Linked DNA regions of Homo sapiens: regions 1, 3 and 4 are each linked to region 2. Evidence: fine-mapped expression QTL. A gene starts in region 2. Each other region holds a variant in brackets. All regions are shown on one strand. Distances are from middle to middle. Region 1 overlaps MAP2K2 (mitogen-activated protein kinase kinase 2). Region 2 holds the start of MAP2K2 (mitogen-activated protein kinase kinase 2). Region 3 overlaps MAP2K2 (mitogen-activated protein kinase kinase 2). Region 4 holds the start of ZBTB7A (zinc finger and BTB domain containing 7A).

Evidence for each region. PIP is the estimated chance that this variant, and not a neighbour inherited with it, causes the effect.
Region 1: its variant is fine-mapped to the expression of MAP2K2 in whole blood (INTERVAL, PIP above 0.99).
Region 3: its variant is fine-mapped to the expression of MAP2K2 in whole blood (TOPMed, PIP above 0.99).
Region 4: its variant is fine-mapped to the expression of MAP2K2 in whole blood (TOPMed, PIP above 0.99).

The regions. Positions count from the first base shown.
Region 1 is chr19:4,085,014-4,093,056 of GRCh38, reverse strand. It overlaps MAP2K2 (mitogen-activated protein kinase kinase 2), which reads left to right. Exons shown (of 11, transcript NM_030662.4): 11 at 2,349-2,736. The coding sequence ends at 2,459. Among named protein-coding and RNA genes, the nearest start is that of ZBTB7A, 22 kb to the right of the region's middle. RefSeq lists enhancers at 3,112-3,191, 2,547-3,323, 3,602-3,771. The variant C/A (reference allele first, on the strand shown) is at 2,633.
Region 2 is chr19:4,119,984-4,128,026 of GRCh38, reverse strand. MAP2K2 (mitogen-activated protein kinase kinase 2) reads left to right here and starts at 3,905. Exons shown (of 11, transcript NM_030662.4): 1 at 3,905-4,243. The coding sequence starts at 4,152. RefSeq lists silencers at 3,753-3,872, 4,063-4,312.
Region 3 is chr19:4,094,797-4,100,523 of GRCh38, reverse strand. It overlaps MAP2K2 (mitogen-activated protein kinase kinase 2), which reads left to right. Exons shown (of 11, transcript NM_030662.4): 7 at 1,110-1,323; 8 at 3,181-3,245; 9 at 5,075-5,136. Among named protein-coding and RNA genes, the nearest start is that of MAP2K2, 26 kb to the left of the region's middle. The variant A/G (reference allele first, on the strand shown) is at 3,157.
Region 4 is chr19:4,065,505-4,073,547 of GRCh38, reverse strand. It overlaps ZBTB7A (zinc finger and BTB domain containing 7A), which reads left to right and starts at 6,649. Exons shown (of 3, transcript NM_015898.4): 1 at 6,649-6,866. RefSeq lists silencers at 1,630-1,830, 4,702-4,860, 5,799-6,128, 6,189-6,298, 6,509-6,568 and 3 more. The variant C/T (reference allele first, on the strand shown) is at 4,427.

The DNA.
Region 1 (8,043 bases), 35 kb after region 2:
TTGTATTTTTAGTAGAGATGGGGTTTCCCCGTGTTGGCCAGGCTGGTCTCGAACTCCTGACCTCAGGTGATCTGCCTGCCTCAGCCTCGCAAAGTGCTGGGATTACAGGCGTGAGCCACCGTGCCCGACCTGCCCAGCTAGTTTTTTTTATAGAGACAGGGTCTTGCTAATTGTCCAGGCTGGTCTCAAACTCCTGGGCTCAAATGATTCTCCCACCTTGGCCTCCCAGAGGGCTGGGATTACAGGTGTGAGCCACTGCACCTGGCATGTGTGACTTTTTTTCTTTTTTAATGAGGCAGGCTGGGCATTGTGGTGGGCACTTGGAATCCTAGTGCCATAGGGGGATGGCTCTCTGAGGCCAGGAGTTCAAGGCCAGCCTGGGCAACATGGTGAGACTGTGCCTCTCCAAAATAAATAAATAACTAAAAAGAGAGGGGTACTAATGTTGAAATAACTTTTTTTTTCCCTCAGACGGAGTCTTGCTCTGTTGCCCAGGCTGGAGTGCAGTGGCGCAATCTCGGCTCACTGCAAACTCCATCTTCCAGGTTCAAGCGGTTCTCCTGCCTCAGCCTCTCGAGTAGCTGGGATTACAGGCTCGTGCCACCACACCCGGCTAATTTTTGTGTTTTTAGTAGAGATGGGGTTTCACCATGTTGACCAGGCCAGTCTCGAACTTGTGATCCACCCACCTAGGTCTCCCAGAGTGCTGAGATTATAAGCATGAGCCACTGGGCCTGGCTGAAATAGCCATTTTTGAACCAGCTTCTTAAAAATGCTCCCCTGTTGGGTATCCTGGACCTAGCCAAGATGTGTCCTATCAAGTTGGTTGGTTTTTCACCCATACCTACACCGACTTTTAGGAAGATAGGCACCTTGGCCTGCCTCCAGCTGCAAAAGAGGCAGCATTCAGGGGCCCAAGGTCCTGGACACCACCCTCCTGGGAACCCCAAAGGCCTCTACTCACCCACTGTGGGGTGGCCCAGCACAGCCTCTTCCCCAAGGGCACCCGCCCTCCTCCCCCAGCCCTTCCAACCAAGAGGCTTCTCATGTTGTGCTGTCCTGTACAGGAACCGCTGGTCACACGTGGCTGTTGAAGTGTGTTCAGTGGGGCCGGGCACAGTGGCTCACACCTGTAATCCCGGTACTTTGGGAGGCCGAGGTGAGCGGATCATTTGAGGACAGGATTTCGAGACCAGCCTGGGCAACATGGAAAAACCCGGTCTCAACTAAAAATACAAAAATTAGCTGGGCATGGTAGCACGCACCTGTAATCCCAGCTACTTGGGAGGCTGAGGCGGGAGAATTGCTTGAACCTGGGAGGCAGAGGTTACAGTGAGCTGAGATCATACCACTGCACTCCAGCCTGTGCGACAGAGCAAGACTGTCTCAAAAAATAAAAATTAAGGCCAGTTGCGGTGGCTCACACCTATAATCCCAGCACTTCGGGAAGCTGAGGCAGGAGGATCATTTGAGTTCAGGAGTTCGAGACCAACCTGGCCAACATGGTGAATCCCCGTCTCTACTAAAAATACAAAAATTAGCTGGGTGTGGTGGCACATGCCTGTAATCCCAGCTACTGGGGAGGGTGAGGCAGGAGAATCGCTTGAACCCGGGAGGCGGAGGTTGCAGTGAGCTAAGATCACACCACTGCACTCCAGCCTGGGCAACAAGAGTGAAACTCCATCTAAAAAAAAAAAAAATTAAAGTAAAAGTATTTAATTAATTTGTTAAACTGAAATAAAATTGAGGCTTTTGTTCTCAAGCCATGGGAGCCACAGTCCAGGGGCTCTGGAGCCTCATGTGCTGGCGAGTGGGACGGTGCCTGTACAATGCTCTTCGCGGAGTTCTGTGGAACAGCCCGTTCTTGCCTGGGCTGTCCTGCTCCGGGGGACCCTGGCAATGGCTGAGGACATTGTGGTGTCACGACTTGGGGAAGCCCCTGGCATGGAGTGGGTGGAGGCCAGGGACGCTGCTCAGTACCCTGCAGTACCCAGGATGGCCCCACGCCAGAGAATGATCCGGCCCCGGTGTCCACAGCGGCCGGAGGACCCTGGGCTTGCGCGAGCGTAGACCCTCCCCTGGGAGCGCAGGCTGCCGTGCTGGTGGTGTCCCCGCCCCAGGTGGAGTGCAGCATCCTGAGACCCCTCCCAGGCCTGGCACACGCCGCTGCCCCTTTCTGGGTTTCTTTCCCTCTCCTACCCCGAGTGCGTCTTCCTGTGGGGAAGGGAGGGTCTCCTCTGTTTTTTGCTTTCTGTCCCGTACCATCTGCCAGGGCTGGGCAGACGCTGGCCCTCCCCGTCCTACTGTGACTCCAGGCCCGGGTGCTCACGGCTCCCCTTTCCTTGCAGAACCACACCTTCATCAAGCGGTCCGAGGTGGAAGAAGTGGATTTTGCCGGCTGGTTGTGTAAAACCCTGCGGCTGAACCAGCCCGGCACACCCACGCGCACCGCCGTGTGACAGTGGCCGGGCTCCCTGCGTCCCGCTGGTGACCTGCCCACCGTCCCTGTCCATGCCCCGCCCTTCCAGCTGAGGACAGGCTGGCGCCTCCACCCACCCTCCTGCCTCACCCCTGCGGAGAGCACCGTGGCGGGGCGACAGCGCATGCAGGAACGGGGGTCTCCTCTCCTGCC[C/A]GTCCTGGCCGGGGTGCCTCTGGGGACGGGCGACGCTGCTGTGTGTGGTCTCAGAGGCTCTGCTTCCTTAGGTTACAAAACAAAACAGGGAGAGAAAAAGCAAACCGCGCCATCCTGCTTCTTTCTTCCGTTCGGCGTTGGGTGCTGGGCTTTGCTTCAGCCCAGCACGGAGAGGACATCCCTGAGCTGACCCGCATCGCCGGGCGCCGAGGCTGGAGGGCGCAGGGCCCTCCCTTAGGGAGAGCTCGCCTCTCCCTTTGGGTCAAGGGATGAAGACCTGCAGTGAGCCCCCAGGCGATGGCGGCTCTCACCAAAAGGAAGGAGAGTGAGGCTGGGGGCGGCGGCTCATGCCTGTCATTCCAGTGCTTTGGGAGCCTAAGGCGGGAGGATCGCTTGAACCCAGGGGATTGAGGCTGCAGTGAACCTCGATGGTGCCAGTGCGCTCCGGCATGGGTGACAGAGCAAGGCTACTGAAAAAAAAGAAGGGAAATGCCACCTGGTTTCCCTCTGTGTCCTCCCCGCCACCATCTCTGCCCCTGTGGAAGGCAGAGCTTCGGCCTTCCGTGATGGAAACCACTTCCTCTACACTGCTCCTGTCACGTAGCCTCCGCGGGAAGGCCGCCCCTGCCTCTTCCCCAGCGTGGCACCATCCTCTCCCTGTCCCCCCGCTTCAGGGAGTGGGGGCTCCCAGCAGTGGCAGCTGAGCTGAGACTCAGCCCCACAGAAAGGAAGCGCTGGCTTTCCAAGCTGTCGGTTTGGTTGGAAACCCCAGCAGGTCCCGAGACACGCCCTGCACTCCCCCTGCGTCCGCAGCAGGCCCAGCCCAGGGCGGGTGGTTCTGTCACCTCTCCTCGCCCAACAAATCAGAAGTGACCACCAGGGCATGTGACACTTTCGGGCCTTTGAACTGTTCCGCCGCAGTGGGCTGCAGATGAAACGGTGAGGGCTTGTCCTGGGGTCTTCGGGGTTCCCGGAGGCCCATCGCCTGCTTCTCCGGTTGTCCGAGATCCAAAGCCCAGCCTTTCTACCTTCGGGACTGTGTGCTCGGATAGAGGAGGCCACCTCTGGGCTAGGTGTGGTGGGCAGCTGGGCTGTTCTAGGGTCCCTCTGAGCTCTCTAAAGCTCTTGAGGCTGTGAGCCTCCCCCTTCAGTACTTCCTGGAGACTACCAGCAAGCTGATATTATCTGCGGGCGAATTGTAGGGGAAGGGTGGCTGGCAACTGTGTTTCTGGAGGAAACAAAGCAGAAGGTGGGGGCTTGTGGTTCTGTGGGAACTGCTGGATTGTCCTTTTCTTCTTAGGGTGACCCTTCTAGTCTTGTGTGGCTTTTTTTTTTTTTTTTTTTCTGCAGACACCAAAGAAGAGATGAGTTGACACCTCCTGCAAACAGCTCCCCAGGCTGCTCTCCTTTATGTTTTGCCCTAAAGTCTCACATGACTTAAAAAAAAAAAAAAAAAAGCCAGGCTTGGTGGCTTACACCTGTAATCTAAACACTTCGGGAGTCCGAGGCAAGAAGATCACTTGAGCCCAGGAGTTCAAGACCAGCCCGAGCAACATAGTAAAACCCTATCTCTACAAAAAAAAAAAAAAAAAAAAAAAAAAATTGGCCGGGCATGGTAGTGCACAACTGTAGTCCCAGCTACTCAGGAGGCTGAGGCAGGAGAATCACCTGAGCCTGGGGAGGTGGAGGTTGCAGTGAGCCAAGATCTCACCATCACACTCCAGCCTGGGCGACGGAGTGTGGCCCCAAAAAATAAAAAATAGGAGAAAAAAAAAAGTGTTGAAGGTGCCGCCCTGTGGGTAACCAGGACCCTCAGGATTGCCGGGAGGGCCGGGGGGAATGTGTTGGCTGCCTGTGCTCCAAACCGGCGGGACCTCGGCCGGTCCTGGAAACCCCAGGGTCCCGGCCACCCCCTGCCATTGGCAAGGAATGAAAGGACACGGAGTCCCAGGGGAGCAGGGGCAGTCTGGGCTAGGTGGGGATGGACCCCGCGCCAGGATCCCTGCGGTGTGCGCAGCCATCCTGCAGCTTCATTGGAGCCCCACGGCACCCCAGAGGGAAGGACGGGAGAGAAGCCGTGGTCTTGCCTATCTTCCCTGCCTCGCTTCAGGGTCAGACTTCTAGAAACTACTTTGTAGATGTGGCAAGAGTGCGTCCACCCTGGCGGTTTCTAGATCTCTCAACTCCTGCTCCCCCAAGAAACCTCCCAGACCCAGCCGCCGCCTCATCCGAGATCCCCCTCCTGCCTGCTGTCCTTTGGACTCGTTGCCTCATTTTCTCCACTGTGGAGGCCTGGGAAGGGATCCCGGGTGCTCCCAAAGGTGGCTACACACCTGGGGATGCCCCTTTTTGCCCTGGCCACGGACATGCTGCAGTCCAGGGGGTAGGATTTCCCTGCCTCCCGGGGCCAGACCCTTTCCTGTAAAACATGCAGCATTTTAAAATTTGCAGGGCATGGGCTGGGTGGCTCACGCCTATAATCCCAGGACTTTGAGACCAAGGTGGGCAGATCACCTGAGGTCAGGAGTTCAAGACCAGCCCGGCCAACACGGCGAAACCCTGTCTCTACTAAAAATACAAAAAAAAGTTAGTCGAGCTTGGTGGTGGATGCCAGTAGTCCCAGCTACTGGGGAGGGTGAGGCAGGAGAATGGCGTGAACCTGGGAGGCGGAGCTTACAGTGAGCTGAGACTGTGTCAGTGCACTCCAGGCTGGGCGAGACAGCGAGACTCCGTCTCAAAAAAATAATAAAAAATAAATAATAAATAACGTTTGCGGGGCTTTAGGGTGAAGGGAGTGTCACTGAAAGCCAGGCCTTGGGGGGCCCTGGGGCAGCTCACTCCTTGACATTGGAAGGTTTTACACAGACGTGTTGAGGTTTTCTGTGGTTATTAAAAACCTCCAGATAGGCCGGAAGCGGTGGCTTATGCCTGTAATCCCAGCACTTTGGGAGGCCAAGAGGGGCGGATCACGAGGTCAGAAGTTCGAGACCAGCCTGGCCAACATGGTGAAACCCTGTCTCTACTAAAAATACAAAAATTAGCCAGGCATGGTAGCACGCCTGTGGTCCCAGCTACTCAGGATGCTGAGGCAGGAGAATCGCTTGAACCCGGGAGGCGGAGGTTGCAGTGAGCCGAGATCGCGCCACTGCACTCCAGCCTGGGCGACAGAGCAAGACTCTGTCTCAAAAAAAAAAAAAAAAACTTCTCGACAACATGATAGCCCTGCCCCCATGTCTGAGGCCCACGTGGACCTGGGGCACACCACCTGTGGCCCCAAGAAGACTCCTACAGTGTTTTGTCGGCTGTTTTCCCAGCTCGGTATTTTTTTTTCCAGACAGAGTATTGCTCTGTCGCCCAGCCTGGAGTGCAGTGGCATAATCTCAGCTCACTGCAACCTTCACCTCCCGGTTCAACTGATTCTTGTGTGTCAGCCTCCCGAGTAGCTGGGACTACAGGTGCCCACCACACCCAGCTAATTTTTGTGTTTTAGTAGAGACAGGGTTTCACCATGTTGCCCAGGCTGGTCTCAAACTCCTGACCTCAAGCCGTCCACCCGCCTCGGCCTCCCAAAGTGCTGAGGTTACAGGCGTGAGCCACCACGCCCACCCCCCAGCTTGGTATTTTCATCGTAAATAAACAGCGCTTGACTTGCTCATATGTGCTGGCTTCTGCCTCCGGAGAGCATGGGCAGCCCTGACATCCCTCTCCATAGTGCAGTCTGTCCCCGGACACACCAAAAAGTCACTGGCTCCATGCAAGTGCCCCAGGCTGTGTGCCGGGCAGGATTTGCTAACATATTTGATTTATGAAGCTGGGGTCACAGGCGACTGCCTGCTCGCTTCATCCTGTGGAATTCTCCCCAGGTGGGACCCAGGCCGGCCCTGGGACAGGCACATACTTCCTTCTCCTCCTGCAACAACCGCCTCGGGGTGGGGCAAGTGGAAAGGTCATCAAATGAAATGAGGCCGGAGAAGCAACCAGCCGCCCAGAGGGTGAGATTCCACGCGGGGCACCACGCCATAGCGTCCCCGTCCTGTCCCCATCCCTGCCACCCCAACCCAATGTGCACATTGCACCCCAGACGAAATGTACATTTCCCAGTTTTAGCAGGATTTCCCTGTTAAAACATTTTAAATAGAAAGGGCTGGGCACAGTGGCCCACGCCTATAATCCCAGCACATTGGGAGGCCAAGGCGGGAGGATCACTTGAGGTCAGGAGTTCGAGACCAGCCTGGGCAACATGGTGAAATCCCATCTCTACTAAAAATACAAAAATTAGCCAGGCATGGTGGCGGGCGCCTGTAATCCCAGCTACTAGGGAGGCTGAGGCAGGAGAATCCCTTGAACCTGGGAGGTGGAGCTTGCAGTGAGCTGAGATCATGCCACTGCACTCCAGCCTGGGCAACAGAGCGAGACTCCATCTCAAGCAAACATAAATTAGCCAGCGTGTTCACTTAAACCCAGGAGAGGAAGGCTGCAGTGAGCCAAGATCGTGCCACTGCCCTCCAGCTTGGGCGACAGAGCAACACTCTGTCTCAAAACAAACAAACAAACAAAAATTAGCCGGCCTGTTCACTTAAACCCAGGAGACGGAGGCTGCAGTGAGCCAATATCATGCCACTGCCCTCCAGCCTGGGTGACAGAGCGAGACTCTGTCTCAAAAAAAATAAATACCGTTCTGGTGCAGGGGCTCATGCCTGTAATCCCAGCACTTTGGGAGGCCAAGGTGGGTGATCACCTGAGGTTAAGAGTTCAAGACCAGCCTGGCCAACATGATGAAAGCCCATCTCTACAAAAAATACAAAAATTAGCTGGGCATGGTTGTGGGCACCTGTAATCCCAACTACTTGGGAGGCTGAGGCAGGGGCGCAGGAGTTACCTGTTCCACCCCGCGCCCCTGCATTCCAGCCTGGCAACAGAGGGAGACAGACTCCATCTCAATAAATAAATAAATAAATAAATATTAATAAACAAAATAGAGGAAAAGAACAGATGATTTGATAGTATATTTCACCCAGCAGAGCCAAAATATTCCCGTTTCACCTTGGAATCAATATGAAATATTTAGGTTTTTCTCTCTTTTTTTTTTTTTTTTTGAGATGGAGTCTCGCTTTGCTGCCCAGGCTGGAGTGCAGTGGCGTGATCTCGGCTCACCACAACCTCCACCTCCCGGGTTCAAGCGATTCTCCTGCCTCAGTCTCCCGAGTAGCTGGGATTACAGGCATGTGCCACCACACCCGGCTAATTTTTGTATTTTTAGTAGAGACAGGGTTTCACCATGTTGGCCAGGCTGGTCTCGAACCCCTGACTTCAATGATCTGACCGCCTTGGCCTCCCAAAGTGCTAGGATGACAGGTGTGAGCCACCACGCTGGGTGGTTTTGTTTTGTTTTGTTTTGTTTTGTTTTTTTG
Region 2 (8,043 bases):
GTGGCACGATCTTGGCTCACTGCAACCTCCACCTCTCAGGTTCAAGTAATTCTCGTGCCTCAGCCTCCCAAGTAGCTGAGACTACAGGCACCTGCCACCATGCCCAGCTAATTTTTTTTTTTTTTCCGAGATGGAGCCTTACTCTGTTGCCCAGGCTGGAGTGCAGGGGCACAATCTTGGCTCACTGCAACCTCCACCTCCGGGGTTCAAGCAGTTCTCCTGCCTCAGCCTCCCGAGTAGCTGGGATTACAGGTGCCCACCACCATGCCCGGCTAATTTTTGTGTGTTTTTAGTAGAGACGGGGTTTCACCATGTTGGTCAGGCTGGTCTTGAACTCTTGACCTCAGGTGATCTGCCCACCTCGGCTTGCCAAAGTGCTGTGATTACACCCGTGACCAGCCTAATTTTTGTATATTTAGTAGAGATGGGGTTTCACCATGTTGGCCAGGCTGGACTCGAACTCCTGACCTCAAGTGATCACCTGCTTTGGCCTCCCAAAGTGCTGGGATTGCAGGTGTGAGCCACCACACCCGGCCTCTCCTTATTTTAATGGCTCATTGTTAAACATTTACCAGCTCACTACTGCTGGGTGCAGAGGAAGAGAATGAACTAAAAAGGCAGTGAACAGACTTTCTGGAGTAAGGGGAAGTGTTACATGGATGTATAGAGTTGTAATAATCCAAGAAATTGAACTTCAGAAACTTGTGCATTAATAGGTGAGTGCAGTGGCTCACGGCTCTAGTCCCAGCACTGCTGAGGACGAGGCAGGAGGATCGCTTGAGCCTAGGAGTGTGAGACCAGCCTGAGTGACATGGAGAAACCCTGTCTGGACAAAAAATACAAAAATTAGCCGAGTGTGGTGGCGTATGTTTGTAGCCAGGGCTACTAGGGAGGCTGAGGTGGGAGAATCGCTTGAGCCAGGGAGGTGGAGGCTGCAGAGAGTTATGATCGTGCCACTGCACTCCAGCCTGAGGCCTGGGTGACAGAGTCAGAACTTGTCTTAAAAAGAAAAAAAAAGCCTAAAATAGGATAAAATGGGAGAAAGATTGCTAGGCAAAACAGAAGGAACATGGAAATAGCCCTGTCTCTGAAAGGGCCTGTCCTTATTTGAGGCCACATATGCATCCATCTGAATTTTGGACAAGCGGGTGGGAGCGATGAGAAGTAAAACTGAAAGGCCCAGATTGTAAAAACCCAGGAGCAGGCTTCCCCAGGAGCAGTGTTTTGTTTGTTGTTTTGTTTTGTTTTGTTTTTTTCGAGATGGAGTCTCGGTCGGTCGCCCAGGCTGGAGTGCAATGGCGTGATCTCGGCTCACTGCAACCTCCACCTCCCGGGTTTAAGCGATTCTCCTGCCTCAGCCTCCCGAGTAGCTGGGACTACAGGCACGCATCACCACACCCAGTTAATTTTTGTATTTTTAGTAGAGACGGGGTTTCACCATGTTGGCCAGGATAGTCTCAATCTCTTGACCTCATGATCCACCTGCCTTGGCTTCCCAAAGTGCTGGGATTACAGGCGTGAGCCACCGCGCCCGGCCAGTTGGTTGGTTTTGTTTTTTGAGCGTGAGTCTGGCTCTGTCGCCCAGGCTGGAATGCGATGGCACAATCTCGGCTCACTGCAACCTCCGCCTCCGGGGTTCAGTTATCCCACCTCAGCCTCCCTAGTAGCTGGAATTACAGCCACCCGCCACCACACCTGTGTAATTTTTGTATTTTTAGTAGAGACGAGGTTTCACCATGTTGGCCAGGTTGGTCTCGAACTCCTGACCTCAAGTGATCAGCCCACCTCAGCTTCCCAGGGTCCTGGGATTACAGGTGTGAGCCACGGCACCTGGCAAAAAATTAAATTTTTTTTTGTTCTGTTTTATTGGAGACGGAGTCTTACTTTGTCGCCCAGGCTGGAGGGCAGTGGTGCAATCTTGGCTCACTGCAACGTCTGCCCCCCGGGTTCAAGCGATTCTCCTGCCTCAGCCGCCTGAGTAGCTGAGACTATAGGCACACACCGCCAGGCCTGGCTAATTTTTGTATTTTATTTATTTATTTGTTTGTTTGTTTGTTTGTTTGATTTTTTTGAGACGAAGTCTCGCTCTTGTCTCCCAAGCTGGAGTGCAATGGCGTGATCTTGGCTCACTGCAACCTCTGCCTCCCGGGTTCAAGCAATTCTTCTGCCTCAACCTCGCGAGTAGCTGGGATTACAGGCACGCGCCACCATGCCCGGCTAATTTTTGTATTTTTTTGTTTTAGTAGAGACGGGGTTTCACCATGTTGGCCAGACTCGTCTTCAACTCCTGACCTCAGGTGATCCACCCGCCTCGACCTCCCAAAGTGCTGGGATTACAGGCGTGAGCCACCGCGCCCAGCCTATGACCTTTCTTATAAAGTGGTACGGCTATTGTATTAAATAGTAAGGTGGTGCTTCAAAAAGTTCAACATAGAATTACCATATAATCCAGTAATTCCTCTTCAGAACATATACCCAAAAGAACTCAAGGCAAGGACTCAAACAGATATTTGTACATCTGTGTTCATAGCGGCACGATTCACCGAAGTGTCTAGTGGCAGATAAATGGATAAGCAAAATATAGTCCATGCACACAATAGAATATTATTCAGCCTTAAAAAGGAGGAAAATCCTGACTGGGTGCGGTGGCTCACGCCTGTAATCCCAGCACTTTGGGAGATCGAGGCGGGTGGATCACGAGGTCAGGAGATGGAGACCATCCTGGCTAACACGGTGAAACCCCGTCTCTACTAAAAATACAAAAAAATTAGCCGGGCATGGTGGTGGGCACCTGTAGTCCCAGCTACTCGGGAGGCTGAGGCAGGAGAATGGCGTGAACCCGGGAGGCAGAGTTTGCAGTGGGCCGAGATCGCACCACTGCACTCCAGCCTGGGTGACAGAGCGAGACTCCGTCTCAAAAAAAAAAAAAGGGAAATTTTTCTTTTTTTTTTTTTTTCTGCTCTTTTTTGGAGCAGGGCTACCCGATTGGAAGTATGCCCGGAGTAGTCAAGTGGGTAAATTCTAACACAGGTTACAACGTGGATCTAACACAGCTACAACAGGCACCTTGAGGACGTGGCCCTCAGTGAAATATGCCAGCCACAAAGGGACAAAACCTGTGTGATCCTACTCATATGAAGTCCCTAGAATCATCAGATTCACAGGAAGTACGACGTTGGGTTCCAGGGGCTGGGGAGGGGGATAGGGAGTGAGGTTTCATAGGGGACAGTGTTTCAGTTTCGGAAGATGAGAAAATTCTGGAGATGGTGGTGGTGGTGGTTGCTTAATGCCGCTGAGCTGTGCATTTAGAAATGGTTAAAATGACAAGTTTTATGTTATGTGTATTTTATAATAAAAATGTTTCAACATGCGCATAGTAATATATGCAATTTTATTTGTCAATTAAAATAAATTTTAAAAATGTTTTAGAGTGGCCTTGTTCTGATGAAGGAGGGGGAGTAACTGACACTCTAAGGCGGTGGGGGCTAGGGGCGTGTGTCCACGCTTGCCAAAAAGATTAAATGGACTCTGGGTGGGTCTCGTCCACTGTTCTGGGGTCTTACGGGTTCTCTCAGCCCCAGCCTGGGGCACCACAGGCTCTCAGGAGTCTGGCTACCCTGCCCACCTGTGCACGACCATCACCCCAGCCTTCATCCCTCCGTCTCCTCCCCTGCTCCCGCGCCTCATGCCCCAAGCGCTTGGGCACACGCGCCGTGGTAAGGCAAGCGAGGGCGCCCGGTCCCGGCACCGCCTCGCGTCGGTCTCCGCCCCTTTCCCCTCCGAAAGGCGGCCTTGTGCTGCTGCGCAGGCGCGGCGGCTGGGGGTGGGGTCCATCGCGGCTCCCGATCCCGTTATCGCGAGAAGCCGGTCCGCGATCTTGTGGCCGCCCCTCCCCTCCCCCTGCCTCTCGGACTCGGGCTGCGGCGTCAGCCTTCTTCGGGCCTCGGCAGCGGTAGCGGCTCGCTCGCCTCAGCCCCAGCGCCCCTCGGCTACCCTCGGCCCAGGCCCGCAGCGCCGCCCGCCCTCGGCCGCCCCGACGCCGGCCTGGGCCGCGGCCGCAGCCCCGGGCTCGCGTAGGCGCCGACCGCTCCCGGCCCGCCCCCTATGGGCCCCGGCTAGAGGCGCCGCCGCCGCCGGCCCGCGGAGCCCCGATGCTGGCCCGGAGGAAGCCGGTGCTGCCGGCGCTCACCATCAACCCTACCATCGCCGAGGGCCCATCCCCTACCAGCGAGGGCGCCTCCGAGTGAGTGGGCAGGGGTCAGCCGGAGGCTTGGGGTGCACGGGGCAGGGAGCCCTCGGGGAAGGACGGGGCGAGGGGACGGGGGTTCGCGAGGAGTGCACGAGGCAGGGGGGTCACGGGGGAGGACGGGGTGAGTGGTGCACGGGGCAGGGGGTTCTCGAGGGGAGGACAGGGCAGGGGACCCTCGGGGGAGGACGGGGCAGGGGGCCCTCGGGGGAGGACGGGGCAGGGGGCCCTCGGAGGACGGGGCGAAGGGTGCACGGGGCAGGGGGGTCTTTGAGCAGTGAGATTGGGCGAGGGGAGGTCCTTGTGGTGGAAAAGATGGGGTGTGGGGTTCCTGAAGAGTGGAATTGGGATAACGGGAGTCTCTGAGTAGTGAAGTTGGGGTGAAGGATGTCTCTAAGAGGAGAGGATGGGGACAGGGGTCCCTGAGCAGCGAGGTTGAGTGAGGGGAGGTCCCTGCAGTGCAGAAGATGGGGTGTGGGGCTTCTGAAAAGTGAAGCTGGGGTGAGGGGAGTCCCTCAGTAGGAAAATCGGAATGAGGGGTGTCCCCAAGGAGAGAACAGGATGAGGCTCCCCAAGCAGTGAGATCGGGGTGAGGGGTATCTCTAAGAGGAGAGAACACAGTGTGGGGTCCTTGAGTAGTGAAATGAGGGTGAAGAGTTCCTAAGAGGAAAGGACGGAGTAAAGGTTGCCGTAGTCATGAGATGAGGGTGAGGGGAGACCCTGAGTAGGGAAATCGGGGTGCAGGGCATTCCTGAGAGGAGAGGATGGGGTGTGGGGAGGTCAGGCAGCCCCTGAGGAGGAAATCTGGGCAAGGGGGCTCCAGAGGGGAGAGGATGGGGTGAGGGGTCCCTGAGTAATGAGACTGAGATGGGGTAGGGTCCCTGGTAGGAAAAGACGGGGTAAGGGTCCCTCAATAATGAGATAGGGCCAAGGGAGGTCCCTGTGGGAAAAGACAGGGCATGGAGTCACTGAGTAGCAGAATGGTGGTAGGTCTCTGAGTAGTGAAATGGGGTGAACGGTCCCTGAATAGTGAAATCGGGGAGATGGTGGGGTCCCTGAGTAATGAGATTGGAGTGAGGGGAGATCCCTTTGGGGAAAAGATGGGGTTTGGAATCCCTAAGTCGTGAGATCAGGCCAAGGAGATGTCCTTGCAGAGAGAAGATGGGGTGCAGGGCCCCTGAATTGTGAGATGGGGTTGAGGGGGTCCCTGGGAGGAGAGGATGTGTCGGTGGGGGCCTGTGGGGGAAGGATAGGCAAGGGGTGTTCTGCATATTGAAATGATAGTGAAGCGAGTCCCTTGGGGGAGAGATGGGGTGAGGGGGTCCCTATGGGGGAAAGATGGGGTGGGAGGGTTCCTATGGGGGAGAGATGGGGTGAGGGGGTCCCTATGGGGGAGAGATGGGGTGGGAGGGTCCCTATGGGGGAGAGATGGGGTGAGGGGGTCCCTATGGGGGAGAGATGGGGTGAGGGGGTCCCTGTGGGGGAGAGATGGGGTGGGAGGGTCCCTATGGGGGAGAGATGGGGTGGGAGGGTCCCTATGGGGGAGAGATGGGGTGGGAGGGTCCCTATGGGGGAGAGATGGGGTGGGAGGGTTCCTATGGGGGAGAGATGGGGTGGGAGGGTGCCTGAGCCACAGGTTGAGAGTGCAGCACCTGGGTGGGGAGGACAGGCTGAGAGGTCTTGGGGGGGCGGGGAGCGGTCCTTTTGGGGAATGAGTCCCTGAGTAATGAGGTTGGCATGGGATGAAGAGGGCACCTAGGGTGCCAAGGTGGGGCAGGGGGGTCCCTTAGGGGAGAGGATGGGGTGAGGAGGTCCATAGACAACCAGGGAAAAGGGAAGAGAGGGGAGGACAGGGGGCTCCCAGAAGGGTCAGGATGTGGGAGAGGGGTGTCCTAGGGGGTCACGATGGGGTGGGAGACCCTAGAAAGGTCAGGATCGGGGGACTTTGGGGGGGTCAGGGTGGGAGTTCTGGGGTATCTGAGGACAAGGGGGTGTCTTAGGGGTGTCAGGACATGGGGGGGCTTTAGCGGGGTCAGGATGGGAGTTCTAGCGGGTTCCAGATGGAGGGGTTTCTGCTGGGGGAGGTCTAGTGGGATCAGGACAGGGGTTCCAGGGGGTTCATGTTGTGGGGGGGGTCAGGTTGGGTCCTCGGGGGTCATGTTGGGGGATTCTGGGGGGGTCAGGTTAGGGGGTCCTCGGGGGGTCATGTTGTGGGGGTTCTGGGAGGGCAGAGCAGGGGGTCCTAGGGGTCTCATGTTGGGGTTCTGAGGGGGTCAGGATGGGGTCCCAGGGAGGTCAAGATGTCAAGATGGGCATCTCTGAGAGGGCATCTCCTGCTTGTGGCGGTGCCCAGTGTGTGGAGTCCCTGAAGCTGGAAGTGTGAGGAGACAGGGAAGCCAGAGTGTGAGGAACGAGGAGGCGTGGGGATCAGGGGACCCTGCTGGCCCCTGAAAGCAGAGGTGCAGATTCTGAAGTGAGTGGACCGGAAAACCCTTGTGAGGGGCTGACCCAGTGCAGAAGCTTTGAGGAGGTGGAGGGCGACCAGAGGCCTGGGTGAAGGGATCTGAGAAAGGGGTATGCTGGGGTCCGGGTGGCGTGCTGGCAGAATCGCACTGCTCCAGGACGAGGGAGGGGACTGGGTGTTGGGGGCACACACTGGTGGGGTCATGCCAGGGTGATCTCTGCACTCCCGTTCTGCAGGCCGAGGCAGGGCAGGGCGATCCCCGGGGCCCTTGGCTGGGGTCCGGGTGCCGTGCCTGCGGTGTGACCCCTCAAGAACCAGGTGTCAGGGACTGTGGCATGTCTGGTGGCCTCTCCCGCTTGGGGGTCGGCCTTCTGTGACCCAGATGAAGACTCTTGATGCCAATGTGTGCAAGTCAACACGGGCACAGCCAGACACGGGGACCCGTTCCTCATTCTCTGCACAGAACTCGCCCTTCACATTTCTCTTCCGTGTGGGGTTTGATTCCCATCTCTTGAAGGATTCCCCCAGGAGAGGAAGCTGGCTGTAGGGACGCCAAGGTTTTGTTTTGTTTTGTTTAATAACCACAGTTGGGTTGCCAGTAAATTTAAGATGGATTAGTCAGCTGACTCCAGAATGCATTTTCAATGTTTTGAGCAGTACTTGAGACCTTCCAAGTCTGCCATCAGAAGTGTTCATTCATGGCTGGGTGTGGTGGCTCACGCCTGTAATCCCAGCCCTTTGGGAGGCCAAGGTGGGTGGATTACTTGAGGCCCAGAGTTCAAGACCAACCTGGCCAACATGGCAAAACCCCGTCTCTATTAAAAATGCCAAAAAAATTAGCTGAGCGCGGTGATGCACACCTGTAATCCCAGCTACTCAGGAGGCTGAGGCAGGAGAATCGCTTGGACCCAGGAGGCAGAGGTTGCAGTGAGCTGAGATCGTGCCAGTGCACTCCAGCCTGGGCGACAGAGCAAGACTGTCTCAAAAAAAATAAATATTCATTTATTCATTGATGTTATTCATTCATTCATTCATGTTCCCCTCCTTACCTTCTGTCCCACTCCCAGGGTCTCGCCATTTCTGCTTCTTCTGGGTCCTTGTTCAGCAGCTCCTCAGTGAGCACCTACTAGGGCCCTGTTTCCCCTCATGGGGGACACTAAGATGAGCAGGGGTTGTCCTGACCTCAGGCAGGTGTTGTTACCTCGGGCAGGTTCCCCCACCCCTGTGAGTCTGTTCCCTCCTGCCTGGGCCTCCGGGGACGATGGTGAGAATGGAATGAGATGGTGTTTGTCCAGCCCAGGAAGCGGTGCCCAGGCCCCTGCCTTCCAGCGAG
Region 3 (5,727 bases), 26 kb after region 2:
GATCTCCCCTTCCTGTTGGAATTCTCTCTTAGGTTTTTGTCTCTAGCAGTGCCTACCAGGTTTCTTTCTTTTTTTTTTTTTTTTTTTTTTTTTTGAGACAGAGTCTTGCTCTGTCACCCAGGCTGGAGTGCAATGGCACAATCTTGGCTCATTGCAACCTCCGCCTCCCACCCGGGAGCAATTCTCCTGCCTCAGCCTTCCAAGCAGCTGGGGCTACAGGCATGTGCCACCACAGCTGGGTAATTTGGTTTTTGTTTTTGTTGTTGTTGTTGTTTTTTGAGACACAGTCTCACACTCTCACCCAGGCTGGAGTGCAGTGGCGCCATCTCCGCTCACTGCAAGCTCCGCCTCCCGGATTCACACCATTCTCCTGCCTCAGCCTCCCGAGTAGCTGGGACTACAGGCGCTCGCCACCACGCCCGGCTAATTTTTTGTGTTTTTAGTAGAGACAGGGTTTCACCATGTCAGCCAGGATGGTCTCAATCTGACCTTGTGATCCGCCCGCCTCGGCCTCCCAAAGTGCTGGGATTACAGGCGTGAGCCACCGTGCCCGGCAGCCTTGGCTAACTTTTAAAAAAATGTTTTTAGTAGAGATGGGGTCTCGCCATATTGGCTAGCCTAGTCTTAACTCCTGGGCTTCCACCTCAACCTCCCAAAGTGCTGGGATTACAGGCATGGGCCACTGCACCCGGCCCTTAGTTAATTTCTGGACCAAGGAATTGGAATCTGGGGTCTTTCAGGAAACGACTGGGGATTCAGCAACCTGCCAAATTGAGCCTTGGAGCAGCCTCTGAGATGTTAGCTGTGGAGGAGGAGGCCCCTGCTTCCTGGGGCCCATCATCCATTCCCAAAAGTGCTGAGCATTGCAGGCTCTTCAAGAGCTGCGGTCAACACCAGCTCCAGGCCTCGGGCTGGAAGCCTCTTCAGCAAGTGCCGCAGGGAGGCCCTGGGTGGGTGAGCCGGGAGGTAGAATTGCGTAACAGCTCTCTATCCATTGCTGCGGTCATTAGCCATGGAGAGGGTGACGGGGGCTGTAACGGGGCAAGCCTCCCGGGTTCCAGCTGCCATCCTCGCCCCTCTGGGCTCTTTCCTCCCTGGCTCTGCTGCAGCCGGAGCGGTTGCAGGGCACACATTACTCGGTGCAGTCGGACATCTGGAGCATGGGCCTGTCCCTGGTGGAGCTGGCCGTCGGAAGGTACCCCATCCCCCCGCCCGACGCCAAAGAGCTGGAGGCCATCTTTGGCCGGCCCGTGGTCGACGGGGAAGAAGGAGAGCCTCACAGCATCTCGCCTCGGCCGAGGCCCCCCGGGCGCCCCGTCAGCGGTACGGCCTGAATCTGCAACTTCCGGTCTGGACGCGCAGTGCCCTGCGCGGGGCCTGCTGTGCCAGGGTCAGCAGCTGCCTCCCCTCTGCCCCTGGCGCACCACCTGTCCCCCTGGATGGTGCCGACTGTGGTCAGCAGTCCTCCCATGGTCCTGGGGTTTCCGGGGACAGAGCTGGAAGCAGTGAGCACCCCAAACCTGTTCTGTCCGGGGCAGCTGCACCTGTTGTTGCCAGCTGGAGGGATCTGGGAGCGCAGCTTTGCCACCAAGCCCCTGGGCAGTTGGATTTTCCAACATTTTATCCCGAAAGCATTCAAACGCACAGAAAAGTGGAAGGAATTGGCCGCCACAGAGCCTGCATTCTGCAGGTGACACGCTCCTGTGCTGCGGGCCAAGCCTTCCAGGGAGTCCTGAAGTGGAGATTGGACTTGGCATGGCCCTCAGTGGCCTGTTGGCTCCGGCCCCAACACACACAGGAGGGGACACAGCCCGGGAGGGGGCGGGAGGGCTCAGGCCCCAGGGACAGCTGGGCTCGCAGAGGACAATCCGGCACTTAGGGCGGGCACCTCGGGAGCGGGAGCTCCCTGACGCCAGTCAGAGAGGGCCGAGCGGACACTTCCACCGCCTGAGGGAAGAGCCGGGGGCGGACCCTGCTTGGTGCAGAATCACAGGAGGGTCCTGTGATTTTTTTTAAAGTCAGACATCAGGGAGAGTTGGTGGCGTCAGACCCCAAAGGACCCTGTAGCGGACTGTGGTTGGTTTTAAAACCATGTTTCCGAACTACAAAGCACACACCCCACAACTCATTTCAGGTGAGCAGTTCAGTGGTTTTCAGTCACAGTGCTGCGCCCCATCACCTCTAATTCCAGAACCTTCTCAGCTCCCCAAGAGGAAACCCTGTCCCCATCAGCTGTCACTCTCCATCCCCTTCCTGCCTCTGGACTGGCCTGTCCTGGGCATTTCACAGAAATGGGGTCACACACTTGTGTGGCCTTCTGTGTTTTGTGTGTGGCTTCTCTCCTGGAGCGCAGTGTCCTCAAGGGTCATCCACGCCATGGTGCGTGTCAGAGCCTGGGTCCTTTTGAAAGGCTGAGTAGTATTTTATGACACGAACAGGCCACGTTTTGTGGTCCTACCCGGATGGATTGGGGCTGTGAGAAGGAGATTTTCATAGCACTGGCAAGCCCACCTCCTCCTCTCCAGCCAGACTGCTGGGATGTCTTGATCTCATCCCAGGGAGAGGCCCCCAAGTCCTTATCCTCAGGCCTAGCCTCAGCCTCTCCCAGTCCCAACTCTCAGGTGGTATACCATCCCCAGCCCAGGGCCCCAGCCCACCTGCCCATTTCAGGACGGGCAGAAGGCGAAAGTCCAGCTGCCAAGCCCAGGCCTGGCCAGCTGGTTCTCAGACAGGGGTCAGCCACCCCTAGCCAGTCTCCCGTCCTGAGTGGCACTTGGGGCCTGCCCCCATCACCGCCAGCAGCTCCATGCAAGGTCACGCGGCTGTCCTTGCCTGCGGTCAGCACCGTCCCTCCCCCTGCCCTCCAGAGAGGAGGGGTGATGACTTTGGCACGTCCGGCAAGCCTCACCGAGCCAAATGTGTGACTTCTCAAAAAATGTTCTTGTTCCTTTTGCCTTTTTTTTAATTCACTAGAGGCTCAGGCAAGGAGTAGCTGTCCCAGGGAATGGAACCCAGAGTCAGGCAGGGGAGCTTTGTCCAGTGCCTCTGCACACCCGCCTCCAATTTAGGCTGGCATGTGGAGGAGGGCGCCTGGTGGTGATCAGCCCCCTGGGAGCCCAACCCCCAGCAGAAGTGAGGTGGCCATCGGCCCATCTC[A/G]CCTCCATCTCTCTCCCTGTGCAGGTCACGGGATGGATAGCCGGCCTGCCATGGCCATCTTTGAACTCCTGGACTATATTGTGAACGAGGTTTGTGCTTGATGCCTTTTGGCTTTTCTTTTCCTTTTCTTTCTTCTTTCTTTTTTTTTTTTTTTTTTTTTTTAGGCAGAGTCTCTCTCTGACCAGAGCAAGAGTCACCAAGGCTGGAGTACAGTGGTGCCTTCTCGGCTCACTGAAACCTCCACTTTCCAAGCTCATGTGATTCTCGTGCCTCAGCCTCCCGAGTAGCTGGGATTACAGGTGCGCACCACCACACCCAGCTAATTTTTTTTTTTTTTTTTGAGACATTGTCTAGCTTTGTAGTGCAGTGGCTTGATCTCAGCTCACTGCAACCTCCGCCTCCCAGGTTCAAGCAATTCTTGAACCAATTCCACGTGTGTCGCGTCTCCCATCTTCTACTGTGCTGCACAAGCCCAGCTCCTTCCCAAGGGCATTGTTTTTTTATGAAGACGAACCCAGAATTCCCACCGCAGCCTCTCACCCTGAGTCCAGAGGGAGGTGTGTGCCAGCAGCCCTGGGCTCAGGCCGAGGAGCCAGCCTGCCCCTTGAGCAGTGGCCCAGTGTCTCTGCATCAGAGCGTCCTGGCGCCCGTGGGCGTGGACTCATAAATCACCCCGCTTCCACGGAGAAAGGTACAGGAATGGCCCTTGCCTCTTGGAAGGAGGCCCAGAGAGCCTAGAAGGACCTGTAGGTCCCGGGGTGGCTCCTGCTCCGTCAGTCCCCATAACAACCCAGTGAGCCACAGTATGAGGGTTTCCACCGCCCAGATGAGTAAAACAAGGCACAAGGAGGGACGCGGCCTCCTTCCAGGCCTGCAGCTGTCAGGGAGGCACAGGACTGCACCCCAAGGTCCTGTTGGCCACGTGACCAGGCCGGGCCACCTCCCTGGGCCTTCTGTGGGTTTCTGTGTCTTTGGTGGCCCTTTGGAGCTGGGGCAGAGAAACGGGCATTTGAGCTGCCTGCAGACTGGGCTAGGCCTGGGGTTGGGTGGCGAGATGATGACGGAGCCAGGTGGGGTGGCCCTGGTGACCCAGCTCTCCCTGCACCTAGCAGCCACACCCATGCCCAGTGAGCACATCCCCCGACCTCTCCCCCGCCTCTTCCCGCCCCTGCCCCTGCGCGGGAAAGGCCTGCCCCTGCCCTGCTGGCACCGCTTACACGGCCACTCCCGCTCCGGGGACGTGTGTCAGGCCAGGCTCCCCAGTGCTTGGGCTTAAAACTGTGGACCCAGTTTGGCCGGGCACGGTGGCTCAGGTGTGTAATTCCAGCACTTTGGGAGGCCACAGTGGGTGGATCACCTGAGGTCAGGAGTTCGAGACCAGCCTGGCCAACCTGGTGAAATACCGTCTCTACTAAAAATATAAAAATTAGCCAGGCGCAGTGGTGGGCACCTGTCATCCCAGCTACTCAGGAGGCTGAGGCTGGAGAATCCCTTGAACCCCGGAGGTGGAGGCTGCAGTGAGCCAAGATCACGCCATTGCACTCCAGCCTGGGCAACAGAGCGAGACTGTCTCAAAACAAAATAACTTTGGATCCAGATGTCCCTCTGTGGGGCCCAGTCCCAAAGCTCATCCTTCAGCCAGTGACACTGGGGAAGGAAGCAAGTGACGACACTCGAGAGGTTGTCCTGTTGATAAAAGGGGGACGCACCCCACTCTTTCCCTCTAAGCAGCCGTGACTCTCAAACGAGAGCTTTCGGGAGAAGGCCACCTCTGACAGGGTGCAGCCCAGTTGGCATGTGGTGTCGGCCAGGCCTGCAGGGTGGGTGACCGGACAGGACAGTGAGGGGTAGAGAGGGCTGCAGCCGAGGGTCCCTGACGATGCCCAGGGCTGACCCCACCCTCTGTTCTCCTCCACAGCCACCTCCTAAGCTGCCCAACGGTGTGTTCACCCCCGACTTCCAGGAGTTTGTCAATAAATGGTAGGTGGAGCCGGGCTGCCCACACCCCTGGCCGGGACCCAGATGTGCCACTCCTTCCGGGTCCTGGGTGGGGCCCGTGGCCCAGCCTGCCCATCCAGAATCCCAGTGCAGCGTTAGGCAGGACTCAGCCCAACGGGAAGCCAGATTCCTTTTCCCAGAGCTGTGGGGCTGCAGCTCCCGGCTGCCATGCCATCCTGTCCGTGAGCCCAGGGGTGAAGCAGGATTGCAGGCCCTGTGCACATGACGGTGTCCCCAGCTCACTGTCTGCAGCAGGAGAAGCCTCTGTCTGGTCCCCGGACCCCTGGTGTGCTGACTGTGGGCTCCCCGGGATCCGCCCGCAGGTTCTGGGAGGGTCGCCAGCCCCACTCCATTCTCCTGCCCCCAAGCACCCAGCAGCACCTGTGGCGTGGGCTTCACAGGCATGTGCCGCAGACCACGGGGAAGGAGCTGCGGACACCCCGCTGCCCACAGGGCCGGTCCATGTGTGTGAGCTCGGGACGCCGTGGAACGGCACCGCACTCCTGGTGCCGGAGTTGCCCCGGGCCCTTGGCGTGCGCTCCGGCGATGTTGCCCCGGGCCTGGGGTTTTATT
Region 4 (8,043 bases), 54 kb after region 2:
GCATGCACCTGTAATCCCAGCTACTCAGAGGCTGAGACAGGAGAATCACTTGAACCCGGGAGGTGGAGGTTGCAGTGAGCTGAGATAAGGTTGCACCATTGCACTCCAGGCTGGGCGACAGAGCGAGACTCCGTCTCAAAAACAAACAAACAAACAAAAAACAATTCTCCAGGACTGGTCCTGGTATTTCCATTCCTATGGCTTGCTTTTCTCATTGCACTCATGATGTCTGGAATCCTTGTATTCATTTGTCTTCTTTCTTACTATCTTTAGCCTCCTCTAGCCTGTACGCTGGAGAGCAGGGACTTGGCCCATGGAAAGCACATGGTCCATTTTTGTCCAGTGAATAAATGAGACAGGAAGGCATGGCCGGGCACGGTGGCTCATGCCTACAATCCCAGCACATTGGGAGGCCAAGGCTGGTGGATCACTTGAGCCCAGGAGTTTGAGACCAGCCTAGGCAACATAGCCAGACTCTGTCTCTATCTACAAAATAAAAAGAAAAGTAATTAGGTCGGGCACGGTGGCTCACGCCTGTAATCCCAGCACTTTGAGAGGCTGAGGTAGGTGGAACATCTGTGGTCAGAAGTTCGAGACTAGCCTGACCAACAGGGAGAAACCCCGTCTCTACTAAAAATACAAAATGAGCCCGGTGTAGTGGTGGGTGCCTGTAATCCCAGCTACTCGGAGGTTGAGGCAGGAGAATGGCTTGAACCCGGGAGGTGGAGGTTGCGGTGAGCCAAGATCGCGCCATTGTACTCTAGCCTGGGTGACAAAATCAAAACTCTGTCTCTAAATAAATAAGTAAATAATAGGTCAGGCGCGGCAGCTCACACTTGTAATCCTAGCACTTTGGAAGGCCAAGGCGGATGGATCACAAGGTCAGAAGTTCAAGACCAGCCTGACCAACATGGTAATACCTCATCTCTACTAAAAATACAAAAATTAGCCGGGCATGATGGTGTGTGCCTGTAGTCCCAGCTACTTGGGAGGCTGAGGCAGAATTGCTTGAACCTGGGAGGCAGAGGTTGCAGTGAGCCAAGATTGCGCCACTGCACTCCAGCCTGGGAGACAGAGTCATACTCTGTCTCTAAATAAATAAATAAATAAATAAAGCACAAGGCCGGGCACGGTGGCTCACGCCTGTAATCCCAGCACTTTGGGAAGCCGAGGTGGGCGGTTCCCAAGGTCAAGAGTTCGAGACCAGTCTGGCCAATATAGTGAAATCTCGTCTCTACTAAAAATACAAAAAATTAGTGGGACGTTGTGGCGGGCACCCGTAATCCCAGCTACTCAGGACGCTGAGGCAGGAGAATTGCTTGAACCCGGGAGGCGGAGGTTGCGGTGAGCCAAGATCGTGCCATTGCACTCCAGCCCAGGCAACAGTGCGAGACTCCGTCAGAAAGAAAATAAATAAAAATAAAAATGAAAAATAAAAAGCACAGTTGTTTCTAGAATATTGAAAGAGTTATGGAACCATTACTTCTATATAACTTCAGAACATTCTCATCATCACCAAAATAAACCTCATGTCCAATAGCAGTCACCCCCATTCCCCTCCCCAGCCTCTGACAACCACGCATCCACTTTGTATCTCCATGGATTGGCCTGTTCAGCACATTTCAGAGAAATGGGATCACACAGTTTGGACTTTTGTGTCTTGCTTCTCTCACTGAGTATGATGTCCTCAAGGTGCATCCACACTGTGGCCTGCATCAGAGCTTTGCTCCTCTTCATGGCTGAGTCATATTCCGCTGTGTGGATGTCCTATGCTGTGTTTATCCATTGATCTAATAATGGAAGCTGGGCGCAGTGGCTCATGCCTGTAGTCCTAGCACTTAGGGAAGCTGAGATGGGTGGATCACCTGAGGTCAGGAGTTTGAGACCAGCCTGGCCAACATGGTGAAACCTCTTCTGTACTAAAAATACAAAAATTAGCCAGGCATGGTGGCAGGTGCCTGTAATCCCAGCCACTTGGGAGGCTGAGGCAGGAGAATCGCTTGAACCTGGGAGATGGAGGTTGCAGTGAGCTGAGATTGTGCCACTGCACTTCAGCCTGGGTGACACAGGAGACTCTGTCTCAAAAAAAAAAAAAAAGAAAGAAAGAAAAGAATAATAGCAATGGACACTGGAATTGTTTCCACCTTTTGGCTGTTGTGAATTATGCTGTTATAAACATTCTATTTCGGCCGGGCGCGATGGCTCACGCCTGTAATCCCAGCACTTTGGGAGGCCGAGGTGGGTGGATCACGAGGTCAGGAGATCGAGACCATCCTGGCTAACACAGTGAAACCCCGTCTCTACTAAAAATACAAAAAAAATTAGCCGGGCGTGGTGGCGGATGCCTGTAGTCCCAGCTACACGGGAGGCTGAGGCAGGAGAATGGCGTGAACCCTGGAGGCGGAGCTTGCAGTGAGCCGAGATCGCGCCACTGCACTCCAGCCTGGGCGACAGAGCGAGACTCCACCTCAAAAAAATAAAATAAAATAAAATAAACATTCTATTTCATTATTATTATTATTCATTTATTTTTAAAAAATGGAGATGGGGCCAGGCGCGGTGGCTCATGCCTGTAATCCCAGCAATTTGGGAGGCCAAGGTGGGTGGATCACAAGGTCAGGGATTTGAGACCAGCTTGGCCAATATGGTGAAACTCCATCTCCAGTAAAAATACAAAAATTAGCTGTGCATGGTGGCGTGCACCTGTAGTCCCAGCTACTTGGGAGGCTGAGGCACAAGAATTGCTTGAACCCGGGAGGTGAAGGTTGCAGTGAGCTGAGATCGCGGCACTGCACTCCAGCCTGGGCAACAGAGGGAGACTCCGTATCAAAATAAATAAATAAATAAAAATAAAATAAAATATTACATGACTTCACAGCACAGTCTAGTCAACGTAACTGAAACTCAAGTCCCCCCAGCCACTCCCTTTGTGTCTTTGCTAAGTTACTCCTCCTCCCTGGTCCCCTGTCTACATCTATCCACCAAGGATAATAACCCTGGCTACGGCCGGGCCCGGTGGCTCACGCCTGTAATCCCAGCACTTTGGGAGGCCGAGGTGGGCGGATCATCTGAGGTCGGGAGTTCAAGACCAGCCTGAATAACATGGAGAAACCCCGTCTCTACTAAAAATACAAAATTAGAGGCCGGGCACGGTGGCTTATGCCTGTAATCCCAGCACTTTGGGAGGCCGAGGCGGGCGGATCATGAGGTCAGGAGTTTGAGACTAGCCTTGCCCACATAGTGAAACCCCATCTCTATAAAAACGCAAAATTAGCTGGGCATGGTGGTGCGCGGCTGTAATCCCAGCTACTCAGGAGGCTGAGGCAGGAGAATCGCTTGAACCAGGGAGGCGGAGGTTGCAGTGAGCCGAGATCGTGCCATTGCACTCCAGCCTGGGCAATAGTGTGAGACTTGTCTCAAAAAAAAAAAAAAAAAAAATTAGCCGGATGTGGTGGCGTATGCCTGTAATCCCAGCTACTTGGGAGGTTGAGGCAGGAAAATCGCTTGAACCTGAGAGGCAGAGGTTGTGGTGAGCCGAGATCGTGCCATTACACTCCAGCCTGGGCAATAAGAGTGAACCTCTGTCTCACAAACAAATAAACAAACAAACAAACAGACAAACAGAAAACCCCTGGCTACACAGAGACAAAAATAATAGGCGTGACTCAAACATTAATAATATAATCACACCTATCATGTAATGAAGACCTCCCTGGTGCAGGGGTTGTGCTGTCTCAGCGTTCCATGCACCGTCTCATTTCTCCCTTGTCACAACACTAGGAAGTTGCATCGATTCTTCTCTCCAAAGGAGTCTGAGGATCAGAGAGGTTAAGCAACCTGCCCAAGATCACACAGCAACCCAATCTTTTATACTTTATTAGGTTTTCAATAGTATCAACTCGGGTTTTTTTTTTTTTTTTTTTTTTTTGGTTGGGGGAGGAAAAAGGAAGTGAAGGGCAGAGGTCAGGAGGAAGCTTTGGGTCCCCTTCGTTCTGTTTTCATGACAGGGGCGGGGGGCGTGGTTTGGGGTGTGCCACATCCTGGCACTTCCTGAAGGACCTCCCTTTGGTCCCCCTGGCAGCGTCCAGAGACACGCGAATGCTGGACTTAACATCCTTGCTCCTTGTCCATCTCTGGGCCTCAGTTTCCCCAACTGTATGGTGGAAATTGTAGTCTCTGCTTCTTCTCAGGGCTGCGATGAGGATTAGGGTCCATGCCCGTCTCACAGAGGAGCCCCTGCCCCTCTGAGTCAGGTTCTCACCATGGAGAATCCGAGTGGGGCTTTCTCGATCCTTTTCCTGCAGGATCGGATCTGAGGCTGGTGGTACAAGAGGGGAAACTGAGTCACCTGCTGCTCCTGGTGTGGGGGAAGTTAGACCATGTAGAGCTTAGAGCCTGGGCGTCTCGCTGGCACGATGGTTCATTC[C/T]TGTCATCTCAGCACTGTGGGAGGCTCAGGTGGGAGGAACACTGAAGCCCAGGAGTTTGAGACCTGGGAAACATAGCAAGACCCCCCCACGGCCCCACCAAATCTCTATTAAAAAAACAAAAAACAAAACAAACAAACAAAAAAAACCAAGGCCAGCCACGGTGGCTCACGCCTGTAATCCCAGCCCTTTGGGAGGCCAAGGTGGTTGGATCACCTGAAGTCAAGAGTTTGAGACCAGGCTTGCCAACATGGCAAAACTCTGTATCTACTAAAAATACAAAAAAAAAAAAAAAAATTAGCCGGGCGTGGTGGCAGGTGCCTGTAATCCCAGCTACTCAGGAGGCTGAGGCAGGGGAATCGCTTGAACCCGGGAGGCGGAGATTGCAGTAAGCCAAGATCGTGCCATTGCACTCCAGGCTGGGCGACAGAGCAAGTCTGTCTAAAACAAAAAACAAAAAAACAAAACAAAAAAAAACGTCTGGGCATCATTTGCAGAAATCCAAACACAACAGTGGGATCTGGGAAGAATCGTGCTTCAGCGTGGCCTCCTGGTCCCGAGGCTGATGGCCGGTGGTTGAAGGAAGAAGGATTTCTATCCCAGGCAGGGTCCTTGGAGCAAAGTCCCTGGATGACACCCTCGCCCTAGATCCACGCGGCCCCTCCCTGGGTCCCTTCCCACCTACCCGGCTGGTTTCAGGCTGCGAGTCCTGAGACAGTCCACTTCCCCTCCGGGGGGCCCTCCCGGGTTTCCCCTCGTAGCCAGATTATTATTACAAAAGCCAATCCAACCCGTTTGGGTGTTGAAAGGCGCTTTTAATAAATTGTGCGAAGAAGCCATAAACTGTGTCTCTCGCAGGAGAGGCTTTGAAGTCAGAGGACAGGCTGGGTACACTACACCCAGGCCGGTGGTGGTTCCCGCTGTCAGGTGGTGTTGGTACTAAGAATGCCAGATAATAATAAAACATAATAATGACCCTGGGATTAGGTGTTAGAATGAAGGCACAGTGAGCCCCGGAACAGGGTCACCCACTGGATAAGCGCTCACTAAACGGCAGCTAAAGCAGCTGTCAGTACTCTCTCTGTCTGGAGGAATGAGGAAGGGGAAACTGAGTCCTGGAGCCCTCCCCCCCCCCCCCAGGCGCGCGGTCGCACCAGCCAGCCCTCCCCGGGCCGGGCCAGGACGTTCTCACCACTCGTGCCCTGCTCCCCCTTCCCTGTCCCCCGCCGGACCTCTCCCACGACCGGGGAGGAAGTGGGAGAAACGGACAGGGGAAAAAAAAAAGTCGCGCTGAACCAACGCCTCCCCACTCCCCACCTCCGCCCCTCGCGAGCCATGCAGACCCCCTTGTGCCAAGGAGCGGCCCGCGCGGACCAGGCGTCCAGGGCCCGGTCCCCGTCCCGCCCCGCGGCCCGCAGCCGGGTGGGGGAACTCGCGAAGCCGGGAAAACAACCGCCCTCCCCGCCCCTCGCCAACCCCTTCCCCCGCTGACGCCCCTAGCGCAGCGGGGTGGAGGCGACTCCTTTATATAATCGCGGGAGGGCAGGTTGGTGGTTTCATTTAGGGACCCGGGAGCCCCGCGGACCCGGGCTGTCCTTGGCAAGGCCACCCCCCGGGGTCCCTGGCGCGGCAAGTCCCACTGAGGCCCGGGGAGGCCCAGGGCCTGGCCTTGCGGGGGGATCCCCACCGCCTCACCCCCAACCCACCCCCGGCAGCCCAGGCCGCGCGACCCACACGCCCGCGTCGCTCCTCGCTGTGCGCACCGCGCTCCCCGCCCCCGCTGCCATCCTGCCACGCCCCGGGCGTCGGGGGCACAGCCCGCGCCCCCCCGCACCCCGCCCCTGCGCAGAGGCTGGGGGCCTGTTTATCTGGAGGCCCCCACCCCCCCTCCACCCCGGGGGGCCCGCTCCCCCCGCGCCCCGGGGAGCTCTGGGGCCAGATAAGCTGGCAAGCTGGCACGGCGCCGCGCGGCGGGGCGGAGAGGTCAGAGGCGGGGGGGCGCGCCGGGGCGGGCCGGACCCCCCCCCCCGACTTGACAAAACCTAATAACAGCCCGGTCTCCCCGGCGCAGCGGGCGAAGCCCCACGGGAGGGCAGAGACGTGGCAAGAGGGGACCTGCCGAGCCTGTTCTGGCCTCCGAGGCCAGGCTGGGGGGGGCGGGCTGGGCGTGGGGGGGCCGGCGGCTGCGGCACCTTTAAGACAAGGGAGGACCCCTCTTGCCCTCGGAGAAACCAGGAAGGGAGTCGCGAGCATCATACGGGGCTTTGGCTGTACTGTACAGTTACTGTAGGGGCAGTGACGCCGCCGCCGCCGCGCGAGGGAGCGACCAGGGCAGCGCGACGCGGGCAGAGCGAGCGCCGCGGACCCCGGAGGCGAGCGGCCGAGGGAGCCCAGTCCCAACTTCGGGCCCCGGCCCCGCGCGCCCCGGCCCGGCCCCGCGAGGTAAGTCAGCGCCCGGCGCGGCCCCCGGCACGGGGTGCAGGGCGGGGACGGGCGGGGGTCGCTGCGGCCACCGCTGCCCCCTCGGGAAGGGGAGATCCGGGGAGCCGGGGACGTTCCCCCAAGTTTCAGAGGAAGGGGTGGTTGGCAGCTGCCCGGAGGCTGGAGGCGCCCTGGATCCCGAGCGCGGGGAGGGGGCGCCGCCCGGGAAGGGGGGATTGGGGGCTAAGTGCATGAGCTTGTGCGCCAGCCCCCCCCAACCCGGGTGCATGGCTTTTCGGGGCTCCCAGGCGCGCGGGGAGCGGGGGAGGGGAAGCAGGGCTGCATTGAGGGTGGGGGGAGCCGGCGTGGGGAGATAGGGGGGCGCGTCGCCTGCTAAGTTTCCAGCTGAAGACGAGGGGCGCTCTCGCCCCCCGGGGGCCTATTCGGTGCTGCGTGCATACGTTGGAGTTGGCCAGGATTGAGCTCCATGGGGGATGGGGGGGAGGGGGCTGAAAAAACAGGGAGGGGGGCTTCGGAAAGGAGGGGGAAGGGGTGGGGTGTCCGGGTGGGCGGGCAGGGCCGCAGGGACCTCTGGGCTTCGTAGTCCCTCCGCCGTTTGCAGCCGGCAGGTGGCAAGCGGCTTGGACTACAAGTCCCAGGGTGCCCCGCGCCGACAGCCCGCCGCGGCCTGCGGGTAGGGGCGGTGCGGAGGAGGGGCGGTGAGCGGCGGGCCGGAGAGCCAATGGGCGCGGGCCGATCGCGCGGCGCGGCGCGGGGGCGGGGCCAGCCCGCCAGGGGGCGGGGCCTGGAGCCGGGCTCCCCTCGCCGGGGGCCGGTGGCGGTCCCGGCTTCCGGCTGCGCGGCCCGCGGGCCGGCCCCCTCCCCGCCCCGGGGCCCCTCCCCGCCTGGTTGTGTAACCGTCCCCAGCCCCCCTCCCCTCGGCCCCCCGCCCGTGGGGGGGGGGTCACCCTCCCCGCGCTCCCCGGGGAGGGCGGCGGCCCGGGCGGCCGCGCGGTGCAGGCGAGCCCGGGGATGCGCGGCCTAGCGCAGGCCGGGCCCGGGCGTGGGGGAGGCGGGCGGGCGGACCCAGATCCGGGGTAATTTGCATCGCCCTCCCCCCAGCCCGGGTGGGGATTGGCCGCCGGCGGCGGGGGGTGGCGCGGGGCCAGGCTCACTGCCGCCTCCCGGCCCCTCGGAG